2 linked regions of the Homo sapiens genome follow. The protein of the gene in region 1 interacts with the protein of each later gene in a biochemical or structural test. Each region holds a gene or a part of one and is shown in the gene's direction. Other genes may lie near its edges. The genes, in order: UBE4B and PYCR2.

Region 1 (12,696 bases):
CATGTTGGCCAGACTGGTGTTGAATTCCTGATGTCAGGTGATCCACCCGCCTCAGCCGCCCAAAGTGCTGGGATTACAGGCATGAGCCAGCACACCTGGCCTCAAGCCATCATTTTGAAGTGTACAATTCAGTGGCATTTACTACATTCACAGTGTTATACGACCACCACAGACCTGTTTATTCTATTAATTAATTAATTAATTTTGAGGGTGAGTCTCTCTCTGTTACCCAGGCTGGAGTGCAGTGGCGCCGTCTCAGCTCACTGCAACTTCCACCTTCTGGGTTCGAGCGATTCTCCTGCCTCAGCCTCCCAAGTAGCTGGGATTATAGGAGCGTACCACCATGCCCAGCTAATTTTTGTATTTTTAGTAGAGATGAAGTTTTGTCATGTTGGCCAGGCTGGTCTTGAACTCTTGGCCTCAAGGCTGGTCTTGAACTCTTGGCCTCAAGTGGTCCGCCCACCTCGGCCTCCCAAAATGCTGGGATTACAAGTGTGAACCACAGCGCCTGGCCCAGACCTGTTTGTTTTTAATCCCAGAATTCTGCTGACTTTTCAGCCACTCAGTGTTGAATACTCTTTGTCTTTTCTTATGTGCTACCATGTGTTTTATCTAGAGAGGAATGATAACTGGGATGGAGCTGTTGGACTGCAAAGCAGCATTTTACCTTTTTGTCTTGAAAGAGTGGCAAATGTGAATTATTAAATCTTTGACTGAAATATCTACCTCCTTTTAATGTTTGAGAAATGTTCACAGATAAATAAATAGCAGCTAGAATTTAGGACTGGAGGTGGATACTTACAGTATTTTTAATCAGTGCTAGGAGGTATTCATTTGAAAATTGAAGAATTATTTAAAATATATAGGTCAGGCCAGGCATGGTGGCTCACGCCTGTAATCCTAGCACTTTGGGAGGCCGAGGCAGGTGGATCGCCTGAGCTCAGGAGTTCGAGACCAGGCTGGGCAACATGGCAAAACCCCATCTCTACTCAAAATACAAAAAATTAGCTGGCGCAGAAGTGCATGCCTGTAGTCCCAGCTACTTGGGAGGCTGAGGCAGGAGAATCTCTTGAACCCGAGTGATGGAGGCTGCATTTAGCTGAGATCGCGCCACTGCACTCCAGCCTGTGCGACAGAGTGAAATTGTGTCTGGAAAAAAGAAAAAGAAAAAGAAAAAGATTATGCTTAGTAATATTTTACCTGTGCAATGCACAAAAGGATAACTATACAAGAAAGTGTAATTATATTTTACTTGTAGCCTCCCTAAAAAAATTTGGAGATTTTTCAGGACAACCAGTTATGAACTAATTTTTGGTGATTCTGGAACCTCTGTTTGTCTTTTCTTCCTCATTACAATGTTGGCATTCCCCAGCTCCACACCTGAGTGTTACTTCTCCATTTTTATCTGGCATATGAGAGCAAGTTACATCTACCTTGATTGTTGGTATTGCAGAAACCATAGAATGATCTCTTCCAGAGCTGTATTGATATCTCACAACACTCCACGGACACTTTGTCATCCAGGGCACCTGTGTTTTATACTGTGCTCTTTAAATTATTAAGGTGCTCATGGAATGAAATTAGTAGGAAAGGGAATTTTTCAAGTTTTCTAGTGGCTACATAGTATACTCCTATTACAACTTGTTGGCATTCAGATTGTCAGCTGTTGTTTACAACATTTCTATTTAATGTTATTAGCCTTGAATCCCAACCAACTCCCTAAATGTGTTGATCAGTGCTTGCATTGTGAAATTTGAAGATGAGCTAGGCTGAGTAAATCTTACATGGTGTTACCTGGTATTAATCATAAATGTATAAAAGCAGATTTGAGTTCCTTTAAGTGCCAATAGCAGGTTAATGTATTAATTACACTATATGTGGAGGTAAGGCTTTCTAACTAAAGCTTTCTTTGTAAATTTCAACATTTACCAACTAGCTCTTTGCTCTAATTTAAGTTTAATGTAGTAATAATGTTGATTGTTGGCCTGTTTATCTTGTTTTCCTCAAAATAAATGGGGAAAAGCTTTTAAAAAATATTGATAGAGGGCCAAGCGCGGTAGCTCATGCCTGTGATCCCAGCACTTTGGGAGGCTGAGGCGGGTGGATCACGAGGTCAGGAGTTCGAAACCAGCGTGGCCAACAAAGTGAAACCCCGTCTCTACTAAAAATACAAAAATTAGCCAGGTGTGGTGGCACATGCCTGTAATCCCAGCTGGCTCGGGAGGCTGAGGCAGGAGAATCACTTGAACCCCAGAGGCACAGGTTGCAGTGAGCCAAGACTGTGCCATTGCACTCCAGTCTGGGTGACAGAGCGAGACTCCGTCTCAATATAGATAGATAGATAGATAGATAGATAGATAGATAGATAGATAGATAGATAGAAAGGAGGAAATATTGGAACATTTAATTGAATTTTTTAACAGGTTATAGATGCTTGGTAATCAAGAACATATTAGTTGCTGAGATGTGCAGAATTTAATTGAGTAGAGCAACGACTCCTGGAGAGTTCTTCAACAGGCTCCAAATGTATGGGTTTTGTTGAATTACTGGGTTTTGTTGAATTACTGGGGGTCCTGTCAGAGTATTAGAGTTCACCAAACTCCTCTTACTTCTGGAGAATTCAGCTGTATTACTTTATGGTTAGACTTGTCAAAGAACAGGTCAACACTCTGGCTGAATTCTAGACTTTTATATGCAAAAAAGCTTTTCCCTGGGGAAGGAATGAAATTTGGACATTCAGTTCTAGCACCTTATTTGACATACTTCCCACTCTTAGATTCTCTTAAACTTATATTTCTGATTTTGTTTTTTTTCTTATAGATATTTATCCCCATTTTACAAGGCCTGGCTCTTGCTGCCAAAGAGTGCTCCCTCGACAGTGACTACTTTAAATACCCCCTCATGGTAAAACTTTGTTCTTTTTCTTTAACTCATTCAATAGATGTTTTTCTTTCAGATTATTTTGACATATACTTTTCTTTCAGGTCCATGAGATCAACCTTGTTTTCAAATTTAAAACATGAAATCACTGTGTTGGCCATGCAGAGTGTTTGGTGTGCAGTGAGATGCATCAGTGAAGACAGTTAGCAGCCTGGTACATCTTCCACCTATCCAAGTCCTAGACAGGAGTTAAATGCACTTATTACAATGTACTTTGTATAGCTTATGAAAAAGATAACTTATCTCCTAGCAATGAGCATACCATAGTTGGGATGAAATTTTGTTACTTAAAAAAAAAAAACCTATTAAAAATGCAAATAAAAAAGGCAAAGCTGTACATACTAAGAAAATGAATACAATTTTATCTTTATGTGTTTACTTTGTGCAGAAAATCTCAGTGTAGCTCTCTTGTTCACCCTCCCTGTTTCCTAAGGTCATATTTACTTGGGAAGTAGAAATCTGCTTAGCTCTTTAACGCACTTAGAGCAGGCATACATTGTGGACAGAAGCTTCAGCTAGATTCCCATGGGGAGGCTTGAATGTTGTGAAAATGCTGAAACTAGAATGAAAATTAGAAGCTCCTTTCTGTTCTGAATTCGCTTATTTGAAATTTTGGGAGAAAAGTATTTTGAAGTGTTACTGAATATTTTCGTTGCAGAAGTGTAAAGGAAAAAATATCAAAATGAAATTAGTTTATTCTATGTATAAATTAAGTCTTATGTAAATTGAGACCATGGTTGTTTTTCTTACTGTATTTATTTCTTTTACTTATTCCACTGATTGGATTCCATTATACCATGAATTCATTACTGACGATCTGTTCTGTGCTAGACACTGGTGATACAGAAGCTAGGAAGACAAGGTCCCTCTCCTCAAGGCACTCATAATCTACTGCAAAAATAAGAGCTACAGCGCAACAGTTGAACAGATACTGTGATAAATGTTAAAACAGAGCTGTACACAAAGGGTGTATTTATCTATTTAAAAAATTCAAACCTGTCATGGCACTAAAAGGCTACAAGAATGCTGGGAAATTAGAAGGTGAAACCAGAATTCCTACTTTAAAAAATAATTTTAAGTGGATTTATGCCAGAGCTCTTTCCATTGTACATGTTATTGGGGCTCCTGGTAAAATTATTTGAATCCTTATGTATTGTTCTCCCTGTGGCAGATAAAAGGAAGTGGAATAATCTGATTGTTTGAGTTCAGTGATGAAATATTTTAGTGAACACTAATTATCACCATATTATGTAGATGTTCCTTCATGGGACTGTTGGCTTTTGGGTTGTGGTGTGAATTAGCTTGATGTTTCAGTGAGGAGCTTTTAGCATCTGATATCACCAAAATGTCCTTTTGTTCAAAAGACAGAGGCCTCCATTGTGGTAGACAGTGATTTCATTTTGTGCCATTATTGATGCTTGCATAATAACGAGGACACAGTGAGTGAGAGGGTACAATAATGAGAGGCAGGAAGCGGAAGACTGTTGAAGCTAAAATCAGAAATCATTGTGATCATTCTCTAGGTCAGTGGATCCTGCTGTGCCATACGTTGGAATCACCTTGGAATCAGCTGGGGATCTTTAAAGGTGTTTCTGCCTGGCTCCCCACCCCAGACCTTGTGATTTAATTCACCAGGGGTGTGGCATGGCATTGGGGTTTCCAAAGGCTTCCCATGTGATCCTAATATGCAGCCACGTTTGTGAACTCCTGCACTAGGCAGTGAGAACGCTTCCTTCTGAGTTGAGGCTGCCTGAACCTCAAAGGCATCTCAACGTTGTGTCAATGCCTAAATGCACTCTTCGGCTCATGTAGCAACTTCTAGAGCTGCGTCCGAATCACAGAGGAAATTAACTGTTGAAAATAATGTTTGATTGAGTTACCATGGGCATGCTAAATTATGTTTATGTCCCTAAAAAGTGTTTTTCATCGTTCTCTAATGTTAGGATGGTTGGATGTCTGAAGGAAAGTGTTGGAATTCTTAAAAGTACTAGAAATCTTGAAACCAAGTTATGTTTTTAAATATGTTTTGAATTTGATAGCTTATTAAATTGTAATTATTTATAGTCATGTTTAACACTGGCAAGAGGAGCCATCTAAAGTTTATGAAATAAATCTTTTTGACATGGAAAGATATGAAGTGGAAAAACTTTTTTGTAAAAAACATATATAGATACAGTACACAAAAATATATCTGAAAACTGTTGCTCAAAATATCAATAGAGGTTATCTTTGAGGGTAAAGCTTGAGTAATTTTTAGTTTCATTTTATATTTCTGTTTTATTTCAAGTTTTCACATTGCATGTGTTTTAGTTTATTAATCAGAAAAAGTAGTGAAGCTGCTGCCATTTCAGAGGGAATGCATGTGTGCCATTTTAGAGGGAACGAATTTATAGCAGCAGTTAAAACTGTTTCTTTATGCTACAAATGACAGTCAGTTTAAGATGAAATGCATTTAAATGACTCTGATCTTATTTCTAGGCACTAGGTGAGCTCTGTGAAACCAAGTTTGGGAAGACACACCCTGTGTGCAATTTGGTAAGCACTCACCTGATGGGCTTGCACATTTTCAGTGAATATATCATAACCCAGAAGGCATTCCTCTAGTGAGATGGCCTGGAAAATGTCTCTTGAAGGACATTTAGGTGTAGGCGGAGGTAACGTGTCTGGGAGGCTCTCAACTGTTACATTTTTGTTAGACACGTTATATCCTGCATTACAGTTGTTCATTTCTATGATTTTTTTCCCTTTTTTTTCTAAGAATCTCACTCTGTCACCCAGGCTGGATGGAGTGCAGTGGTGGGATCTTGGCACACTGCAGCCTACGCCTCCTGGGTTCAAGTGAGTCTCGTGCCTCAGCCTCCCAAGTAGCTGGGAATACAGGCATGCATTACCATGCGAGGCTAATTTTTTTGTATTTTTAGTAGAGATGGAGTTTTACCATGTTGGCCAGGCTGGTCTCGAACTACTGACCTCAGGTGATCCACCCGCCTCAGCCTCCCAAAGTGTTGGGTTACAGGCGTGAGCCACCGCACCGGGCCTGTTTTTTTTCCCTTGACAAGTATTGTACAACTAAACTAACAAGAGGTATGGAAAAGTTATTCGAGTCCTTTGGTGGTATAAGAAGAGTTCATTTGAACTTCATCCAATAGTATCCTGAAACTTAAACATTCTTTTTTTTGAGACAGAGTCTCACTCTGTCACCCAGGCTGGAGCGCAGTGGCGCAATCTCAGCTCACTGCAACCTCTGCCTCCTGGGTTCAAGCGATTCTCTTGGCCTCAGCCTCCCCAGTAGCTGGGATTACAGGCGCACACCACCACGCCCGGCTAATTTTTGTATTTTTAGTAGAGACGGGGTTTCTCCATGTTGGCCAGGGTTGTCTCGGACTCCTGACCTCAGGTGACCCACCCCCACCCACACTGGCCTCCCAAAGTGCTGGGATTACAGGCGTGAGCCACCATGCCTGGCTGAAACATAAAAGTTTTAATAATATCTTGTGAAAATACAGAGGAGCTGGAGAGTTTTCATTACATTTTTACCCCACCGGCCTGTTCAGCGGCTTGACTGGCTCTTCCATCTTCTGCCTAGGTTGCTTCTTTGCGGTTGTGGTTGCCGAAATCCTTAAGTCCTGGCTGTGGGCGGGAGCTGCAGAGACTCTCTTACTTAGGGGCTTTCTTTAGCTTCTCAGTCTTTGCAGAAGATGATGTAAGTATAGTGGCTACTTGTACTTTGCTGCCCTTTTATTCAGATTCTTTCCCAAATGTGCATTATATGTTGACTGCATTTTTTCCTTCTCTTTCCAGGTTAAAGTGGTTGAAAAATACTTCTCAGGGCCTGCCATTACCCTGGAAAACACTCGTGTGGTTAGCCAATCATTGCAGCATTACTTAGAGCTCGGAAGGGTAAGTGTTCAGAAAACAAATCCAGAGGAAGTATCAAAGATGAGCTCCAGATACAGAGCTTTTATTTTGTAGACTGGACTATGCCCAGTAGACAAACGGCTAACAAAAGCCAATTCGATCTTACATAAAAAAGATAAACTATAAGTAAGTAGCCTGTGTCTTGAATAACAGGTTGTAACAACAGCAGTATGCTGCCTTTGTATGTAGCATCACTGGGAACTGGTCCTAAGCTTAGTGGCCCGGCTCCTCCTCCAGCTGGCCCTTAGGCATTTACACTGTGAGGGTGAGCAAGGATTGTTAGTTTGCACACACCCTCACTGACTTGCTTATCCCAAATGCAGATTAATATGTCTTCAATTCTCAAACTTAAAGGCAGAGAAGGGCCGGGTGTGATGGCTCATGCCTGTAATCCCAACACTTTGGGAGGCCGAGTGGGGTGGATCACCTGAGGTCAGGAGTTTGAGAACAGCCTGGCCAACATGACGAAACCCCGTCTCTACTAAAAATACAAAAATTAGCCAGGCATGGCAGCGCGTGCCTGTAATCCCAGCTACCTAGCTACTCGGGAGGCTGAGGCACAAGGATCACTTGAACCCAGGAGGTGGAGGTTGCAGTGAGCCAAGATCACGCCACTGCACATCAGCCTGGGCGACAGAGCAAGACTCCATCTCAAAAAAAAGAAACAGGCAAAGAAGTTACAGGCTTGGGTAACTAAGGTAATTTTGATCATGGGAAAGAAGTAACAAAGCCTATTTTATTAAAACTGTAACTGCCGGCTGGGCGTGTTGGCTAATGCCTGTAATCCCAACACTTTGGGAGGCTGAGATGGGCTGATCACGAGGTCAGGAAGTCATCCTGGCCAACATGGTGAAACCTCGTCACTGCTAAAAATACAAAAATTGGCCAAGGCAGGTGGATCACGAGGTCAGCAGTTTGAGACCAGCCTGACCAACATGGTGAAACCCCATCTCTACTAAAATACAAAAAAAATTAGCTGGGCATGGTGGCGGGTGCCTGTAATCCCAGCGACTTGGGAGGCTGAGGCAGGAGAATCGCTTGAAACCGGGAGGCGGAGGTTGCACTGAGCCGAGATGTGCCACTGCACTTTAGCCTGGGCAATAAGAGCAAAACTCCGTCTCAAAAAAAAAAACAACAAAAATGCAAAAACTAGCTGGGTGTGGCGGCGTGTGCCTGTAATCCCAACTACTCGGGAGGCTGAGGCAGGAGAATGGCTTGAACCTGGGAGGCGCAGGTTGCAGTGAGCTGAGATTGCACCACTGCACTCCAGCCTGGCAACAGAGCTAGACTCTGTCTCAAAAAAAAACAAAAAACTGTAACTGCCTACCTCCCCCACTCCATATTCTGCTTTCATGCTCATTACTTTGACATAGTTGGATGTGGATATTTCTTATATTCTTTCACTCAGGCTCTTCTAAAATGAGTAGAAGTGGGAGAGGAGAGAACGTGGGAAGTAGGCTAGCTGTTCGTGAAGTCAAAAAGGAATCATGTGCAAAATAGTTTTAATTTGTTTCTTCTTTTTAAAAATAAATTTCAGCAAGAGCTTTTTAAGATTCTGCATAGTATTTTGTTAAATGGCGAAACCCGTGAGGCTGCTCTCAGTTACATGGCGGCTGTCGTCAATGCCAATATGAAGAAAGCACAGATGCAGGTAGGATTCCTACAGACTGCTTTTCGCTGTTTGTCAAATTCATTCATCTGACCCAGATTTAGTCAGCACCTACCAGGCACTGTTCTAGGAGTGGGGGTACAGTATTGAACAAGGTAGACGAGCTTCCTGCTTTTGTGGAGCCCATGTTCCACAGAATAAACAAGTAGACATATAAATACATGATTTTAGACAGTTGTATAATCAGTGAAGAAAATAGAGCAAAGTAAATGACATGAGAAGAACTGTAGGTACCAGAAGGAAGATCTGAAGGTGATTTTTGATTGGGTGGCAGGAAAGGCCTCCCTGAGGAGGTGACATTTGTTTCATAGGAAGGAGCCAGCCATTGTAGTGGCTGAGAAAAGAGCTATCCAATGTGGAAACGAAGCAGCTTTGGTACAAGCCCAGCACGCAGGCTTTTGTGGCTGGAGAAGAGTGAACAGGAGGGAATGTCGGGTCCTGGAGTTAGTGGATAGGCAGGGCGCCATCGGGTTAGGTTTACGTGATCAGAACTGTCATGGGAGGGTTTTCAGCAGGGAAACCACAAAAGCTGCTATGTAGACGGACCAAAACAGAAGGGGGCAGCCAGGAACAGACCCAAGGGGGCAGCCAGGAACAGACCCAAGAAGGCAGCTGCAAGGGCGTGAGTGCTTCGGTCCGGGTGAGACAGGCCAGTGGCTGCAGCTGCTTTGCCAGAGGAGAAAAGGGCATCCTTCCTTGACTAGTAATAAATAATGAATGAATGATGTGATGTGTATACTCAGAAGCAAAAATCATGTAGAGAGAAGAGCACAGATCTTGTGATTTCTGATCGTGGTTCCACCGTTTACTAACTGCGGGACCTTAGACAGTGACTCCTCTGTGCCTCCATTTCCTCATCTGCTAAGCTGCGGTACTACTGGTACTGGGTTTATTATATATAAAGCTGTTAGAGTGGTGCCTGGTACACAGTGATCACTCAACCAATATTAACTATCATTCTTATCATTGTTGTATTATTATTTTTTTCTTAACAGAGGTAATCAAGTTACATTGTTATATTGCTAATGCAGGAGCATGCTGATGCTGTCACCTAGAGAAACAATGTCACATGATAAGAAGTGGAGCAACTTGTTTTGATGCTCTTGAGGGAAATAAAGAGGAGAAAGAGGCCGGGCATGGTGGCTCACGCCTGTAATCTCAGCACTTTGGGAGGCCGAGGTGGGAGGATCACTTGAGCCCAGGCATTTGAGACCAGCCCTGGCGACATAATGAGACCCCATCTCTACAAAATATACAAAAGTCATCTGGGCATGGTGGCTGGTGCATGCCTATAGTTTCAGCTACTTGGGAGGCTGAGGCAAGAGGATCACTTGAGCCAGGGAGGTCGAGACCAGCCTGGGCAACATAGGGAGACCCTGTCTCTACAAAAAAAATAAAAAATTAGCCAGTATAGTGGCATAGACCTGTAGACCCAGTTATTCAGGAGGCTGAAGTGGGAGGATCACTTAAGCCCGGGAGGTTGAGGCTGCAGTGAGCTATGTTTGCACCACTGCACTACAGCCTGGGCAACAGAGTAAAACCCTGTCTCAAAAAAAAAAAAGAAAGAAAGAAAGAAACATTTATTGTGTTTCTACTTACTAATTTTGAGCCTCAGGCAAATCACTTCAGGGTCTCTGAGTCTTTATTTCCTCCTGCATAAAATGTTAACAGCAGTATTACTGACCTGTAAGAATTATCGTGATGGTTCAGTAAAAGAATGTATAAAATGGCCAAGCGTGGTGGCTCATGCCTGTAATCCCAGCAATTTGGGAGGCCGAGACGGGCGTATCACCTGAGGTCAGGAGTTCGAGACCAGCCTGGCCAATATGGTGAAACCCCATCTCTACTAAAAATACAAAAAATTTGCCGGGCGTGGTGGCGGGTGCCTGTAATCCCAGCTACTCGGGAGGCTGAGGCAAGAGAATCACTTGAACCCGGGAGGCGGAGGTTGTAGTGAGCGAGGATCGTGCCACTGCATTCTAGCCTGGGCAACAAGAGTGGAACTCCATCTCAAAAAAAAGAAAAGAAAAGAAAAGAATGTATAAAATGCCTCTTATATAAATAATAATTATATAATAGGCGGTATTCAACAAGTAGCACCTGCTAATATAGAATTAATGGAATGACAGTGGTGATGAGATATATGTCTTCTCATTGACTTTAGGATACAGTTATGTTTGAAAGTTCAGTCTGCTTTCTTACAAAGTTTGCCAAAATTTCTATTCATGTTATTTTAAATACTTTTTCTTGGCTGGTCACAGTGGCTCACACCTGTAATCCCAGCACTTTGGGAAGCTGAGGTGGGCGGATCACTTTAGGTCCCAGCTACTTGGGAGGCTAAGGTGGGAGGATTGCTTGAGCCTGGGAGGTGGAGGTTGCAGCCAAGATCACACCCCTTCGCTCCAGCCTGGGCAACAGAGTGAGACCCCATCTCAAAAAAAATTTTTTTTAATGTTTAAAAATACTTTTTCTTTTCAACTTTCACAGACAGATGATAGATTGGTGTCTACAGATGGATTTATGCTGAATTTCCTTTGGGTACTGCAGCAGCTAAGTACAAAAATCAAGTTAGAAACAGTTGATCCCACGTATATTTTTCACCCAAGATGTCGGATTACTCTTCCCAATGATGAGACGCGTGTGAATGCAACGATGGAAGATGTGAATGACTGGCTGACTGAACTCTGTGAGTACTGTGTTCGTGACTCGGTCATTAAAACACTGCCCTCTTGTCTGTGTGCTAGTAGTTCCTCACAGATTGTTACCACCTCACCATAAAATGAACTTAAGAGATAGAGAAACATAATAAAAATTAATACAGTAGGCCTGGCGTGGTGACTCATACCTATAATCCCAGCACTTTGGGAGGCCGAGGCAGGTGGATCACGAGGTCAGGAGTTCAAGACCAGCCTGACCACCGTGGTGAAACCCCGTCTCTACTAAAAATACAAAAATTAGCTGGGCATGGTGGCACACGCCTGTAATCCCAGCACTTTGGGAGGCTGAGGTGGGCAGATCAAAAGGTCCGGAGTTCATGACCAGCCTGATCACCATGGTGAAACCCCATCTCTACTAAAAATACAAAAATTAGCGGGTGTGGTGGCACGCACCTGTAATCCCAGCTACTCAGGAGGCTGAGGCAGGAGAATTGTGTGAACCCAGGAGGCTGAGCTTGCAGTGAGCCATGATCACGGCACTGCACTCCAGCCTGGGCAACAGAGTGAGACTCTGTCTCAAAAAAAAAAAAAAAACAGATACAAATTGAAAAAAAAAATCAAGTTATCATAATATATCTATAAAAAAGCCAAAACCAAAGTGATAAAATAGAATGTAAGTTTTTGAAGAAGTAGGTGATATTTAATCAATTTATTTAACCTATCTGAAGTGAATTCTGGTGATTCATAGCAAAAAATATAATACTGTTGTTCTCAATAATTCTACTTTTCAGGTTATATTCCCAAAGTTGGAGGAAAAAGGAATAATTTTGTTTACATAAATCCTCCCAGTAGTAACATTATTTATAATAGAAAAAAATTAGAAAAAAGAAATATGCAGGGAAACGGCTCTGGAATCAGTAGTTTATTAACATAATTTAATACCATTTCGAGATTTAAATATTTCTGTATTGTGTTGAAAAATGGAGATTTTATACAATACATCAGTAAGGAACATCACCAAAGATTGTTGATGGGCTGGGAATGGTGGCTCACATCCATAATCCCAGCACTTTTGGAAGCTGAGGTGGGAGGAGAGCTTGAGCCCAGGAGTTCAAGACCAGCCTGGGCAAAATAAGGAAACCCCATGTCTACAAAGAAAAAAATTAGCCCAGCATGGTGGCACATGCCTGTGTTCCCAGCCACCCAGGAGACTGAGGCAGGAGGATTGCCTGAGCCCAGGAAATTGAGGCTGCAGTGATCTGTGATCTTACCACTGCACTGCACTGCAGCCTAGGTGACACTAGGTGACAGAGTAAGACCCTCTTAAAAAAAAAAAAAAAAAAAGATTGTGATGGACATCTGTATGCACATTTAACGAGGTAGGACAGAATACGGTGGTCCTTGAATGGAGCTAACAGGAATTCTCTTCTTCTTGTAGTATTGTTTAAGTTTATAATTGCAAAAGTATCCTTAAACTTCTGGCGGGGCATGGTGGCTCACGCCTGTAATCCC
Region 2 (9,696 bases), about 220 Mb from region 1:
GCCAGCGCTTTGGGAGGCCAAGGCAGGCAGATTGCTTGAGCCTGCGAGTTCAAAACCAAACTGTACAACATAGTGAGACCATCCCCATCATCTATACTTTAAAAAATACAAAAAATTAGCCAGGAGTAGTGGTTGTAGTTCCAGCTACTTGGCAGGCAGAAGTGGGAGGAGTGTTTGAGCCTGGGAAGTTGAGGCTGCAGTGAGCTGTGATGATGCCACTACACTTTAGCCTGGGTGACACAGCAAGAACTTGTCTCAAAAAATAAATAAATAAATAAATAAATAAATAACATTAAAGATAATTTTTAATGTATTGCAAACCACCCATAATCCCACCATCCTAAAACAAAATTATTTTGGTTTTTGCATATCACCTGTTTCCATGCAGCATGAGTAAATACTTATTTTAAAAACCAAGGTTTTGGCTGGGCACGATGGCTCACGCCTGTAATCCCAGCACTTTGGGAGGCCGAGGTGGGTGGATCACGAGGTCAGGAGATGGAGACCATCCTGGCTAACATGGTGAAACTCTGTCTCTACTAAAAAAAAAAAAAAACAAAACAACAAAAAAAATTAGCCAGGCGTGGTGGTGGGCACCTGTAGTCCCAGCTACTCGGGAGGCTGAGGCAGGAGGATGGTGTGAACCCGGGAGGCGGAGCTTGCAGTGAGCTGAGATCCCGCCACTGCACTCCAGCCTGGGGCGACAGAGCGAGACTCTGTCTCAAAAAAAAAAAAAAAAAAAAAATCAAGGTTTTGGCCAGGTATGGTGGCTCACGCTTGTAATCCCAGCACTTTGGGAGGCCAAGGTGGGTGGATCACCTGAGGTCAGGGGTTCGAGACCAGCTTGGCCAACACGGTGAAACCCCGTCTCTACTAAAAATACAAAAATTAGCTGGGTGTGGTGGTGCACACCTGTAGTCCCAGCTCCTCAGGAGGCTGGGGCAGGAGAATTACTTGAACCTGGGAGGCAGAGGTTGCAGTGTGCTGAGATTGCACCACTGTACTCCAGCCTGGGTGACAAAGCTAGACTCCGTCTCAAAAAAAAAAAAAAGTTTTTCTTATCTTTCTTTTTTTTTTAATTATACTTTAAGTTCTAGGGTACTTGTGCACAACGTACAGGTTTGTTACATATGTATACATGTGCCATGTTGGTGTGCTGCACCCATTAAGTCATCATTTACATTAGGTATATCTCCTAATGCTATCCCTCCCCCCTCCCCCTACCCCACAACAAGCCCTGGTGTGTGATGTTCCCCTTCCTGTGTCCAAGTGTTCTCATTGTTCAATTGCCACCTATGAGTGAGAACATGCGGTGTTTGGTTTTTTGTTCTTGCGATAGTTTGCTTTTTTTTCTTTCTTTTCTTTTTCTTTTTTTTTTTGAGACAGGGTCTCACCCTTTTGCTCAGGCTGGAGTGCAGTAGCAGGATCTTAGCTCACTGTAACCTCCACCTCCCAGGCTCAAGTGATCCTGCCACCTCAGCTTCCTGAGTAGTTGGGCCTACAGGCACGAACCACCACACTCGGCTAATTTTTTATTTTTATTATTTATTTATTTTTATTTTTTTATTTTTTGGTAGAGACAGGGTTTTGCCATGTTGCCCAGGATGGTCTCAAACTCCTGAGCTCAAGTGATCCTCCTGTCTCAGCCTTCCAAAGTGTTGGAATTACAGGCATGAGCCACTGCGCCCGGCCAAAATCAAGTTTTAATGTGCTTATTGCATGGGAAAAAGAAGTGAAGAGAGTTATTCTCCAAAAGGGTCACATTTGTTCTAAATCTTTGTGTGGTGGAATTGAAAACAATGTTTTTCCATTTGTTCTCTTTCTTTTTTGTTTTTTCGAGGCAGAGTGTCACTCTGTCGCCCAGGCTGAAGTGCAGTGGCACGATCTCAGCTCACTGTAACCACCGCTTCCTGGGTTCAAGCGATTCTTGTGCATCCGCCACCAGAGTAGCTGGGAGTACAAGCGCAGGCCATGATGCCCGGCTAATTTTTGTATTTTTAGTAGACAGGGTTTTGCCACGTTGGCTAGGCTGGTTTGGAACTCCTGTTTTCAAATGATCGCCTGCCTTGTTCTCCCAAAGTGCTGGGATTACAGGAATGAGCCACTGCACCCAGCCTTCCATTTGATCTCATTTCTAATTTTTCTAAAATAAACATGGATTATTTATGCAATAACAAAAAGAATGCAAAAATGCACTCAAAAATGCGCCTCTTTGGAGAGGCTCCTAGGACAGGGAGGATTGAGGGCCAAGGCACTTGCCATCTGTTTATCTGGGAGCAGCACAGGCTTCTCTCTCATTTCCTAGGTCATCTCAGTTCTTAGGAGAGACTGGCCTGCTGTTTAGAGATAGGAGAGACTGGCCTGCTGTTTAGAGGGAGGCCCTGAGGCCCTGATAGTGAAGAAGCAGAAGTAGACAGAAGTGAAGCAGTATCCATTTTGTCTGAGACAGCTGGAGAGGGCCATCAGGCAGGACAGAGGGGAGTGAAGAGGGAGGAAGGGTACAAACAGCAGAACCTGACTGGTGGATGAGAGGATGGGAGTAGAGGGGTGAAGGTGGGCAGTCCTGGCAGCTTTGTGGACGTGTCTGCTCCGAGACAGCAAAAGGATAGTGGGTGCCCAAGGAGACAAGTGCCAGCAGGGACTGAGCATGTCCCATGGCAGGATGGCAGTGCAAGGCTGGGGTGTCCTTTAGGGTGGCTGGATGGGAACGAAGGGCTTCCCCTCTCCTCTCCTCAACTTCAGTTCAGAGGAACTCCACAGGCATCAGATGTGACTGCCTTAGAAACCAAGGCAGTGGCCACAGCACCAAGGAAATGGGACGTTAGAGTCAGCAAGGTCATTAAAAGAGAATAAAATGGTCTTACCTATATTTAAAATAGGTAACAGGCTGGGTGCGGTGGCTCATGCCTGTAATCCTAACACTGGGAGGCCAAGGAGGGAGGATTGCTTGAGGTCAAGAGTTCAAGATCAACCTAGACTAACATAGTGAGACCCCGTCTCTATTTTATATATATATTTTATATATACATATATTTGGGTTTTTTTTGTTTTCTTACTTTGTTTTTATTTTTTGTTGTTTTCTTTTCTCTTTTGCTCTTTTTTATTTCCATCTTATATTTTTAAAAAATAAAATATAATAGATTTTGTATATATAAACTTTAAACTTTGGAGATGAAAAAATAATAGATCAAAACTACCACAAAAAAGAACAGTTTGTGGTCAGTGGCTCACTTGCTGCCCTAAGTCCAAACTGAGGGGAGCAAGTGCTTTTGCTACTCCGTGTCTTATGTGGCCAGTCCTGGCTGGGGATGAAGCCAACACTGGGGGTCACCAACATGGCCTCTTTTTTTTTTTTTTTTTTTTTTTTAGACAGAGTCTCACACTGTCACTCAGCCTGGAGTGCAGTGGCACAATCTTGGCTCACTGCAATCTCCACCTCCCAGGTTCAAGCAATTCCCCTGTCTCAGCCTCCTGAGTAGCTGAGATTATAGGTGCCCGCCACCACATCCGGCTAATTTTTTGTATTTTTAGTAGAGATGGGGTTTCACCATGTTGGCCAGGCTGGTCTCGAACTCCTGACCTCAGGTGGTCCATTCGCCTCAGCCTCCCAAAGTTCTGGGATTACAGGTGTGAGCCACCGCACCCGGCCATCCTTTCTTAGGCTTTTGCAGTTCTCCCATTTCACCCTGGCTCCCGGAAGCGGAAACGGGAGATATCAACGCAAGGCAACCAGGTAAGGGATGGGTGTATGTAAGGGGTCAGAAAGGAGTGAGACACAAGTGTCCCCCACACCTCACTCCAAAACACACATTCAGCTTCAGCACAACCTCCTGTATTGCAGGTCAGATCCAGAGCTCCCCACAACAGACCACAGCCAGGAAAAGCAAAGGGCCCTGCAGTGCCCTGGTGGACTATGGGGAGGGTGAGTATCCTGCAGAGGAGCAGGCAGCATTAGGAAGTTGTGAAGGAGGGTAAACCCCCAACTTCCTCACTACCTGACAAAGACTCCTCTACAACAAAAGGGAGGCCAAATGCAGGCAAACAGAAATGAGACAAAGAGAAGAGGGGAAGTGCTGGCAGCGCAGTGTTCTAGTTCCATTCCTGAGGTCCTGCTCTCTGTAGGTGCCCCTTCTGGTCTGTGAGCTCCCCTGTGCCTCTCCCAAGCGCTGTACAGAAGCCCCCCTTTTCCTTCAGCCAGTTTGGTTTCTGCTGGGTTTCTGGTTTCAGAGCTTTACGCTGGTAACCATTAGGCTATGCTGCAACATGGCAGCTATGGGAGCTCTTAAAGCCCCAAACCACTGGACCTTACAAATCTCACTTCTGGGAGTCATGTTAAGAAAATAATGAGTCAGGCAAAGATTTTATCACAATAATATGAACAAAAATTTAAAAAATTGAAGGCCAGGAGTGGTGGCTCATGTCTGTGATCCCAGCACTTTGGGAGGCTGAGGCGGGTGGATCACCTGAGGTCAGGAGTTGGAGACCAGCCTGGCCAACATGGTGAAACCCCATCTCTACTAAAAATACAAAAATTGGCCAGGCGTGGTGACACATGCCTGTAATCCCAGGTACTCGGAAGGCTGAGACAGGAGAATCGCTTGAACCCGGGAGATGGAGGTTGCAGTGAGCCGAGATCATGCCACTTCACTCCAGCCTGGGTAACAAAGACTCCGTCTCAAAAATAAATAAATAAATAAAAATAAGAAATAATAATAAATTGATGTTTTATGAGGACAGGAACTTGTCTGTTTTGTTCATAGCTATACTCCCAGAACCTGGCTCAGTAAGTTATCTATTATATAAATCAATAAACCTAACATTGACCTTTGAATGGTTAAATCAGTAAGGTACATACATATAATAAGTAGTCATTAAAACTGTCTTAAATAACTTTTCAGTGACATTGGAAAATGCTCATGTCTACTAGAGAAATTTCAAAACTACATGTACATCATTTATTTCCAATGATGGAGAAAGTAGATATGCATAGGACATGATAGTGTAAGGAAATACACCAAAAATGTTTGTAAGAAACTATCTTTGGGAAGTATGATGTGGATGATTTTATTTTTACTTTTATCTCCAAACTTTCTTCAATATGTCTGTATTACTTTTCGAATTTAAAAAATACAGAGGCCAGGTGCTGTGGCTCACGCCTGTAATCCCAGCACTTTGGGAGGCTGAGACAGGCAGATCACCTCAGGTCGGGAGTTCAAGATCAGCCTGACCAACATGGAGAAACCCTGTCTCTACTAAAAATACAAAAAATTAGCCGGGCGTGGTGGCGCATGCCTGTAATCCCAGCTACTCAGGAGGCTGAAGCAGGAGAATCGCTTGAACCCGGGAGGTGGAGGTTGCAGTGAGCCGAGATCGTGCCATTGCACTCCAGCCTGGGCAACAAGAGCGAAACTCTGTCTCAATAAATAAATAAATAAATAAATAAATAAAACATAGCATTATTTTGCTTAATAGTAAATATTATATTTGGTCCTCACTTTAAAGGGTGCACAAACTGAGGGCCTGGGGACTTGCTCAGGGAAGTTCACAGAAAGCAGCCCCTTGCCTGGGAGTGGGGGTGTGCATTACACGGAAAGGACTAGAAAAGCTAGCAGAGAGACCATGGGAACTAAGGGTCCTCAGCTCTTCTGAGTCCTCTAGGAACGCCACCTTCTTCCTCTCTACTTCTGTCATTTGTTCCCTGCGGCCCCTTATATTTACTACTGATAGAAAAGGAAACATCACATTGGTGGAGCTTTTAAAAGCAAGAGACAGGTCGGGCGCGGTGGCTCACGCTTATAATCCCAGCACTTTGGGAGGCCGAGGCGGGCGGATAACCTGATGTCAGGAGTTGAAGACCAGCCTGAACAACATGGTGAAACCCCGTCTCTACTAAAAATACAAAAATTATCCGGTCGTGGTAGCGGGCGCCTGTAATCCCAGCTACTGGGGAGGCTGAGGCAGGAGAATCGCTTGAACCCGGGAGGCGGAGATTGCAGTGAGCCGAGATCGTGCCACTGCACTCCATCCTGGGCAACAAGAGTGAAACTCCGTCTCAAAAAAAAAAAGGCAAGTGACAGCAAGGGGCTGGGGGGTGCGGGATCGCGGAAGAGTCGGAGACTCGAACTTGTCCTTCTTGTATCTAGTTTGGACAAATTCGCGAGAAACACTCAAGTTCAAGTGAATAAGCCGCGGCTGACCACCCTGGTGCCGCCTCGCCGCCACCTGGTCTGAACCTCGCCGCCACCTGGTCTGAACCTACGCCAGGAGGGCCTCGTTCATCCCCGCAAATCGGCAACCTGGAGAATTCCTGTGGGCCTTGAGGGGCATCTGATGGCCAGCGCCAGAAATAATATTAGCCAGGCCTGGGCCAGGCCTCAGCCCTGAGCCCGAGGTGGCTTAGGGACGGCGACCTCAGCCTTGGGGTGGGGGGGGGGGGTGGGGGCGGCCGGGCGTCCTGGGCCGGCGGGCGCCTGGAGCTCACGCCAAGCTGCCACAGGGGCTTCCGGGACTCCAGCCCGGAGTTCCGCCCTCCAGTCGCGAGCGGAGGAGGCGGGCACGCGGCCTGGCTCGGGCCGCGGATTGGCCTGCCCCGAGATCCTGGCCACTGATTGGTCGCCCGGACGGGGCGGGGCCACGTGGCCTAAGGCGCCATCAGCCGCCCGGGAGATATCCGCCGGGGGAGAATAGGGTTGCACCATCCCAGAAGCTGCTGTTAGCTCGCCGGTCCTCGGCACGCCGCCCGTTCGCCCCTGCGCTGTCCGCCCTTCCCCTAGCGTTACTTCCGGTCCCTCGCTGAGGGGGTTCGTGCGGCTCCCAGGAGGCGTGAACCGCGGACCATGAGCGTGGGCTTCATCGGGGCCGGCCAGCTGGCCTATGCTCTGGCGCGGGGCTTCACGGCCGCAGGCAAGCGCGTGGAGGCGGGAGGCGGCTTCGCGGGCGGTCCCGAGGCCCGAGGGGGCCTCCGTCCCACCAGCATGAGCGAATGAAAGGGGAGTTTGCGTCCGGTGGGGTAGATGAGACTCTGGTTGAGCAGCAAGTGCGTCTTCTGTCCTCGTAGAGGGTTGAGGGGGAGAGGGAGACTGGCACTGTTAGGACGGCTCTGGGTTTTAGAGCCAGGGAAAGCGTGGTAACGGGCTGGGCCGCGACCCCTAGTTGAAAAGCTCTGTCTTCTGCAGGCATCCTGTCGGCTCACAAGATAATAGCCAGCTCCCCAGAAATGAACCTGCCCACGGTGTCCGCGCTCAGGGTAGGTGGAGCCGGGCGGAGTGGGAAGCGGGTGGAGGCCCAGGAAAAGGATGACCTGAGATGAAGTGAGTCTGGCCGGCCCCTGCGCCCAAGTGCTGGTCTTTGGCCGGCGGTGACCTTTACTCCAGGAACGTGACAATCTTTCCACCTTCTCTTGGGCAGCTCAATGTGGTGGGAACACCCAGGGAGACATAACTGGGGGTCAGATCCAGACACTGGAGTGGTAGAGGATTAACTGAGGTGATTATGTGATGAAAGCACCTGGCACATAGTAGGTACCTAATAAATACTCATTTTTTAAATTTTTTTTCAGACAGGGTCTTACTCTGTCGCCCAAGCTGGAGTGCAGTGGCGCGATCTCAGCTCACTGTAACCTCCGCCTCCCACCTCAGCCTCCCACCTCAGCCTCCCGAGTAGCTGGAATTACAGGCATCCACCACGCGCAGCTAATTTTTGTATTTTTGGTAGAGAATACTGTTGGCCAGGCTGGTCTCGAACTCCTGGCCTCAAGTGATCTGCCCGCCTTGGCCTCCCAAAGTGCTGGGATTACAGGGGTGAGCCACTGCGCTCAGCCATTTTTCTTAATAGACGAGTTGTATGACCTTAAAGTACTCAGCCACTTTGAGGCTATTTCCTCATTTACAACAGTGGCCACTTTGCTGTTATTCTGAGTCGTGAATGAGCATATTGGGAAGAATCTGGTGAGTTAGTTGTTCTGTTCTCCAAAAACATATTCCAAGTCTTCACCCAAAACCTGTGCTCTGTGGGAGAGGATGGCTGATGAGGCAGGTGACAGGCAGTGTCTGTGCCTAGGGTGGGCTGATGTCCCTAGCACTGGAGGGTCCTGCTTCTCAGTTTGGAGTCATAGAGGGATGGATGGCTTCCAGCCTAGCCCTGGACCACATGGAGACTGTGCGGTCCCCACGAACAAGCGGCCAGGGTTAGGATAGGGCCTGACTCAGCTGTGCTTTTAACGACCAGGTATTAGCATTTCCCTTTGCCCTGCCACTTTCACCATAGGGCCTTCTTACCTGGCAGAGGAGTGCCTTAGATACCAGAAGATTGGCAGGGAAGAAGGGCAGCCACTTCCTGGTTACCATGGAGAAGCTTGTCATGCTCCAAGCCTGTGCTTACTTGTCCAGTAGCAACAATGGGAAACTGTATTATTTGGGGTAGGGGTAGAACCCTGAGGGCATAAAGCTAAGAATTCCAGGCTGCATCTGGCAGAATCGGTTTGGCAGGGGTTCAGCTGCTCCCTGGGAGGCCTTGGCATAGCCAGGCTGCTCCAGCACTGTGAGCTGGGAGTCTCCTCTTGCAGAAGATGGGTGTGAACCTGACACGCAGCAACAAGGAGACGGTGAAGCACAGCGACGTCCTGTTTCTGGCTGTGAAGCCACATATCATCCCCTTCATCCTGGATGAGATTGGGGCCGACGTGCAAGCCAGACACATCGTGGTCTCCTGTGCGGCTGGTGTCACCATCAGCTCTGTGGAGAAGGTGCCCATCTCAGCCCTGATGCCCCTTGTGTGAGGGGAGGGTTGACCCACGAATGGCAGCTAATGGGTGGGTGCTGGTGGGAGCCGTGCCCTGGCCACTCATTCGGCTCTCTCCCTCACCCTAGAAGCTGATGGCATTCCAGCCAGCCCCCAAAGTGATTCGCTGCATGACCAACACACCTGTGGTAGTGCAGGAAGGCGCTACAGTGTACGCCACGGGCACCCATGCCCTGGTGGAGGATGGGCAGCTCCTGGAGCAGCTCATGAGCAGCGTGGGCTTCTGCACTGAGGTGGAAGAGGACCTCATCGATGCCGTCACGGGGCTCAGTGGCAGCGGGCCTGCCTATGTGAGGCCCTCATTTGCTCGCTCAGCCTTCTAGGAACCCAGGCAGCAAGATGGGCTGGCAGGCAGGCTTGGACTGGGGGTGGCGCCCACCTCTTGGGCACAGCTGGCTGGTACAGGATGCTGACCCTTGGAGCTAGTTCTAGTCATCAGAAAGCAGACCTAAGGAAAGGCCCTTCAGTGCCTATGGCCTGGGGCTTAGTGAGTGTCTCCACAGGCATTCATGGCTCTGGACGCATTGGCTGATGGTGGGGTGAAGATGGGTTTGCCACGGCGCCTGGCAATCCAACTCGGGGCCCAGGCTTTGCTGGTCAGTATCTTTCCCCCGCATGTTCAGGACCAGGGTGTAGAATGGGGGTTCTTGTGCATCACTGAACTGAGGTGGGAGTTGGTTGGGAAGCTGGGGTAGCAGTTGGGCAGGAGCAGTGGGTATGGGAAGCCTGTTCCAACGCACACCAGCAACTTTCTCCTAATGTGCCCTTCCCCATAGGGAGCTGCCAAGATGCTGCTGGACTCGGAGCAGCATCCATGCCAGCTTAAGGACAATGTCTGCTCCCCTGGGGGAGCCACCATCCACGCCCTGCACTTTCTAGAGAGTGGGGGCTTCCGCT

Evidence for each region.
Region 2: of the proteins of UBE4B (region 1) and PYCR2, one has a biochemical effect on the other in vitro, tested with the Homo sapiens proteins (one study listed by BioGRID).

The regions. Positions count from the first base shown.
Region 1 is NC_000001.11:10,123,974-10,136,669, forward strand, and holds part of UBE4B (ubiquitin conjugation factor E4 B), read left to right. Parts: intron 1-2,820; coding exon 2,821-2,904; intron 2,905-5,418; coding exon 5,419-5,475; intron 5,476-6,526; coding exon 6,527-6,643; intron 6,644-6,741; coding exon 6,742-6,840; intron 6,841-8,395; coding exon 8,396-8,509; intron 8,510-11,014; coding exon 11,015-11,213; intron 11,214-12,696. UniProt on the Homo sapiens protein: Ubiquitin-protein ligase that probably functions as an E3 ligase in conjunction with specific E1 and E2 ligases. May also function as an E4 ligase mediating the assembly of polyubiquitin chains on substrates ubiquitinated by another E3 ubiquitin ligase.
Region 2 is NC_000001.11:225,921,251-225,930,946, reverse strand, and holds the start of PYCR2 (pyrroline-5-carboxylate reductase 2), read left to right. Parts: upstream 1-6,696; 5' UTR 6,697-6,836; coding exon 6,837-6,903; intron 6,904-7,175; coding exon 7,176-7,246; intron 7,247-8,563; coding exon 8,564-8,743; intron 8,744-8,804; exon of another isoform or gene 8,805-8,867; coding exon 8,868-9,089; intron 9,090-9,302; coding exon 9,303-9,395; intron 9,396-9,575; coding exon 9,576-9,696. UniProt on the Homo sapiens protein: Oxidoreductase that catalyzes the last step in proline biosynthesis, which corresponds to the reduction of pyrroline-5-carboxylate to L-proline using NAD(P)H. At physiologic concentrations, has higher specific activity in the presence of NADH.